2 separate regions of the Homo sapiens genome follow, and region 2 is linked to region 1. Evidence: fine-mapped expression QTL. A gene starts in region 1. The other region holds a variant in brackets. All regions are shown on one strand. Distances are between the middles of the regions.

Region 1 (2,740 bases):
CCACTACTATTACCAGTAACATTTTAAAGCAGAAACACAAAATCTTGTTCCACATTAACCTACACACACACAGAAAAAAATTTGTTAAACTTATCAAATAGAAAAAGAAGGCAAAATCAAGCCCCTGGAAAATATTTTATTCTGAAAGAGTAAAAATGTCAAAATTATAACAGACACTACTCTTCTTTGGTAATGAAGGTTTCATATATTTACCACAGCAGAGAAAACTCCAAATCGGCAGAGCAAAGAAAGGACTGTGAACAAGACTGATCATTTAAAGGTCGTAAAGGTAAGGAGCAAACTACAAAATTAAATTTTTTTAAAAAAAGAACACGAAGATGAAAGGAGAGTCTGTAAGTCACAGACAAGATAAGGACTGGTAAAATCTGCAAGGTCACTGGAACCTACCAGGTCACAAAAGGTGGAGGTGGGGGTTGCGCTGGGGGGGCGGGGGATGGGGAGCTGCAGAGTCGGTGAAGAACGGAGAGTGATAAAAACATGTCAGAAAAAGACGTTCCAAAGCTGGAGTCCTTGGTTTGCAACGCTGAAATTGGGGTGAAAGTCAGGGAACGGGCAATGAGTCCATGTATTTGTGTTTTCAGGGAGGTGTTAGGGAAAGGTGGAGGAAGGCGAAGAGAAGGCTAAGGAAGCCTAAGAACTGCGGCTGCAGAGTCACGGAAACACTTCGCTCCGCTCCAGGATCACTGGCACAGGCCTTTGCCAGGGCGAACTCCGGGCAAGACCCGTGACCCCACCCCAGAAAACTCCCGACTCCCGGGCTGGAGAAGGTAGCCAAGGTAGGGCGGACCGTCCCCCGACGGGTCCTAGGAGGGTCCAGCCCGGGGGCGGACGGCGCCGGGCGCCCAGCACCGCGGCCAAGGCTCAGGGCCCGTGCCCCCTCCCGCCCTGCCCATTCGCACCCCCAGCCCCGCGCCGCGCCGTCCTTACCCGGCGCGAAGCTGTCGGCTCCCGGCAGCCGGGCGGCCACGGCAGCGGCACCTCCTCCTGCGGCGGGCGCCCTCACCCTTCCGCGCCCAAGATCGCCATCTCGCAGCAGGCGCGGCGGCAGCAGCCACCCAGGCGTCGGCCCCGGCAGCCCAGGCCGCCAGCAGCCACTCGGAACCCGCACGCGGAGCTCGCCGACACCCGACCCTCCCCCCACCCCCACCCCGTCCACGCGCCACCCCCAGCCGACCCCACACCTCCCTTCCTCGGGAGCGCGCCGCGTGGCCGCGTCGCCGGCGCCGCGCCCTAAGCGCGCGCCTCCCCGCCGGCCCCGGCACCGCGCGCTACGCCGCGGCCGCCCAAAGCCTCCAACTCCGGACCCGGAATCCGCCTCCCCCGAGCATGCGCAGCGAGGGCGCTCGGATGCTGCCTTAGGAAAACTCCGCTCCTCCGGGTCTTCCGAGCAGTCTAGCGGAGGGGGACGGACAGCCAATAGTAGGGAGGGGCGGGGCCTGAACGTGTGGAAGGGGCGGGGCCGCCGCTGAGATTTGGGAAGAGGCTGCTCTAAGCTCGCGCTGGGCACTGCTAATTTGACTTTCCGGTCGGCGGCTGATCCCGGAGCAGGACTTCTTAAGGTCCGGGGGCAAAAGTAGGCTGTCCATAAATACTCCTTGACCTAGCTGGGTGACCTCGAACACATTGCAAGAGTAAATAATTGCATTTAGCCATTGGTCATACCCGAAGACTTTCAGTCCATTTTTTATTAATCAAAACGTTCATCTGTGGAAGCCCCACCACCTAGTCCTCACTCACATCAGCCCGGTGATAAAGCAGATACTTATTGACCGAGTATACGTGTCCGCACAATTAACGCACACAACAATCTGACAAAGTAGTGTCTACTGTCTGCATTTTACAGAAAAGTCAACTAGTTTAGAAAAGTACTGTTGGTTATGTGTATTGCTTTTAGAAGAAAGGCCAATGTGCAAATAGAAGTCAGTGGGACCACATTGCTTACCAGGTGACCCGGTTTCTACTTCAGAGAAGCAGAAGCCTTCAGGCATGGATTTCTACAGCTTTTGCCCAACCACCTGACCAACCCCCATAGATTATATCTACGTCCACACCCAGACTTACTAGTTTTCCTTCTATCTCGGAGGCTAGATGTCCCTGCTCCTCTCCACTGCCTGCTCCCCACTGTGGGCGGTCCTTGGCACATCTTTAACTTCACCCTCTCCACTGCCTACAACTCCTCAGCATAATCACGTTTTAAGATTAGGTCCTAAATTTTCCCTTGATTTTAAAACCTCTGGTTCTCTCTCCCCTTCCATTTTAACTGAGCTTTTTGAAAGAACTGTGTACCAAAAACAACCCCAACACTTCATGAGTGTGTACAGAATTCAACAAGTATCTCTTGACTGAACAATGCACATTCCCGCCTACCTCCATGCATTAGTTCTTGTCCTCTGGCTTCATAGTTGAAATTGGTGCACATTATATCCACAAAGATCATTCGAAAATATACATCTGTGTCATTCCACTGCTTAAAATCATTCTTTGGCTTTTCGGAGCTCTCCTGACAAAGATTAACGTGATATTCAAGGTTCCTTTGATGCTCACATGCTCTATCTCTCCTGTTATGAAAAACTCTTCACAGTGCCCCATATGTGCCCACTCATCTCTGCTTTAAACATGTACTAAGATTTTCTTCATCTTTTTGCTTTTGCTGTCTGGTCCCTTTAAATAGATGCAATAATGTGCTTACAAACACGTCCTCAGAAATTCCGTAGGTATT
Region 2 (3,038 bases), 88 kb before region 1:
AAAAATAATAGTATCTACCTCAAGGGGTTATTGGAAGATAAAATGAGTTAATACCTATGAAGTACTTAGAACAATCCTCGGCACACAGTAATCACTACATAAATAGTTTACATGCTGCAAATCCATTGTCAAATGAGAGCAAAGACAGCTATACTAAGGTTTCACTTGTGTAGGTTTTCTTGAACCAAAAAGTAAAATGTTTTGCTAAACTTGAGGATAAATTAGAGACTAAATCTCATGTGCTCACTAAGCAATATTTAAAGGAGAACTTCAGGTTTTCACTCACACAGATGACTTCCCATTGCGAGGATCTTTGAATGTTGTTGTTCTTGTGTTATGATCAACAAAGTACCTTACACCTTCACGAGTATATCTAATTTCCCAGCCTTCTGGCAGGGGTTCTTCATTCTGTAAGCTAAAAGATAAAGTTAAAATCACAAGATGAACCTTTTCTAGGTACTAAAAATATCTCATTCAAGGTTGGTTGGTTCTACCTACTGATATATGCAAGACGACTTAAGGCTGCTGTATATACATACCCTTGAGTTCTTGGATCTTCCCACTGGGTTGTTTTTGTGTTATGATTCACAAAGTAAACCCTGTCTGTTGAATCCACTCTTTTTTCTGAAATATAAAGTGAGTATAATATTTAATAACTATTTAGGATCTATATATAAAATAAGGAACACATATAATTATATATAATATATATTATATATATAAAAACATATCAGGGATATATGTATCCCTTATATATTATAGAATATATTATATAGAATATAATATATATTATAGAGAATATAACATATATTATATTATAGAGAATATAATATATATTATATTATAGATAATTATGTAGAATATAATATATATTCTATAATATATAATTCTTTAATATATAATCTATTCTATATATTCTGTATATTATATATATAATACATATATATATCCCTTATAATATACATATATATATCCCTTATAATATATACATATATAATATACATATATATCCCTTATAATATATAATATATTTAATATGGATTATATATTCTATATAGTATACAGAATATATAACATTCTACAGAATATATAATATATAGAATATATAATCCATATTAAATATATTATATATTATAAGGGATATATATATGTTAAGGGACATATATAAGGGAGATATATATATATAAAATAAGGAACATATATATATATATATATATATATATATATAT[ATG/G]GAGAGATATATATCTCCCTTATAGATCATTAGCAAAAACAGCTTACCCCAGCCTGGTGGCAAAGGTCCATAAGGGTCATTTTCTGCAGCTAACATTGAAGCCTGATTGGAGAAAAGATTAGGGAGAGAAATAAAATAACAGTGTTTTAATATGAAAGTAGAAATAAGCCAAGCATGTGGCAGAATCACATTTTATAATAATTTTCTAAAAATATGATAAGGGGTTGGGCGCAGTGGCTCATGCCTGTAATCTCAGCACCTTGGGAGGGCAAGGTGGGAGGATTACTTAAGCCCAGGAGTTCAAGACCAGCCTGGAAGATCCTGTCTCTATAAAAAAAAATTTTTTTTTAATTAGCCAGATGTGTTGGCACATGCCTAAAGTCCCAGCTACTTGGAAGGCTGAAGTGGGAGGATCACTTGAGCCCAGGAGGTGGAGGCTACAGTGAACTGTGATCACACTACTACTGCACTCCAGCCTGCACAACAGAGCGAGAAGCTGTCTCAAAAATATATCTATATTATTATATAGACAGATAGATAGGTCCACATTATAAGGAAATATAGCAATTTCAAGACACAAAGTTCTTTGTTTTTTGAGACAGGATCTTCCTGCTCTATTACCCAGACTGGGGTGCAGTGGCGTGATCTCAGCTCACAGCAGCCTCTGCTTCCCGGGCTCAAGCAATCCTCCCACCTCAGCAACAACCGAGTAGCTAGGACTACAGATATGCGCCACCACACCCGGCTAATATTTGTATTTTTTGTAGAGACAAGGTTTTGCCATGTTTCTGAGGCTGGTCTCGAACTCCTAGGCTCAAGCGATCCACCCGCCTCAGCCTCCCACAGTGCTGGGATTACAGGTGTAAGCCACCGCTCCCAGCCAAGACACTAAGTTCATAAAATGTCACGAAGAGGAGACTATCAACTATCAAATTAATTATTAGTTTTTCGAAAATGATTTAAAAATAATACACTGGCATCAATACTTTACTCTCCCAGTCCTTCCATACTAATCTATAGAGGGAAGATGAAATGGGAGAAGAACATATAGGAAATTATGATGTTTAAATGAGGCAATATTATTTGTTTAAAAATAGAACAGTTATCACAATTTTCTTTAAAACAAATGCCCACTAATAAAACTAACACTCAACTCCAGTATCATTTATAGAAATAAACTTTTAATTAGTATCTTTTATATTTTCATACATACATAAAAACACATTTTTATGTATGCCTCCATTCTTATAACCTAGAAATATATTCTGAAGAAAATATAAGTATTCTATCAAGAATTCTATAATAATGACAAATATAAAAATCATTACCTGAAAAATAATTTCTTAAAGTATATGCATCTTGATGAATATAATCTTGTAACAGACCCAGTTAATTATACTCAATATTTATCTTCCACCTGTTCTTGAGAACCAAAACCCTGTTTTGTTGGAGGTAGAAACGTGGCCATAAAGATCATTCCATTCCCCCTTCCCTGCAGCTGAGTTGGTAGAGTGACCAATTCTGGCCAATGAGGTATAGGCAGAAGGCCATGGTGAGGGCATCCTTCGCTAAGTAAAAAAGGCAAGGGCTTGCAACAACAGAGCCATCTGCCCTTTCAATTCCTCTTTCTCTTTCTTCTTGCCTAGACTATGGATGTGAGGCCCATAGTGCAGAGTATATAAACGAAGTAACAGGCCTGAAGTGCGATATGGATGGCAGAGCAAAAGGGCAGAAAGAACCCGGGTCCTTGATGACACTACTGAGTCAATGCAGCACTTACACTTTTACCCCAGACTTGATGTTGTAC

Evidence for each region. PIP is the estimated chance that this variant, and not a neighbour inherited with it, causes the effect.
Region 2: its variant is fine-mapped to the expression of WWP1 in regulatory T cells (Bossini-Castillo 2019, PIP 0.95).

The regions. Positions count from the first base shown.
Region 1 is chr8:86,341,139-86,343,878 of GRCh38, reverse strand. It overlaps WWP1 (WW domain containing E3 ubiquitin protein ligase 1), which reads right to left and starts at 1,332. Exons shown (of 25, transcript NM_007013.4): 1 at 949-1,332. WWP1-AS1 (WWP1 antisense RNA 1) reads left to right here. Exons shown (of 6, transcript XR_007060994.1): 2 at 219-289; 3 at 603-797. RefSeq lists a silencer at 782-1,241.
Region 2 is chr8:86,428,992-86,432,029 of GRCh38, reverse strand. It overlaps WWP1 (WW domain containing E3 ubiquitin protein ligase 1), which reads right to left. Exons shown (of 25, transcript NM_007013.4): 12 at 1,279-1,333; 13 at 540-624; 14 at 287-415. Among named protein-coding and RNA genes, the nearest start is that of RMDN1, 78 kb to the left of the region's middle. The variant ATG/G (reference allele first, on the strand shown) is at 1,230.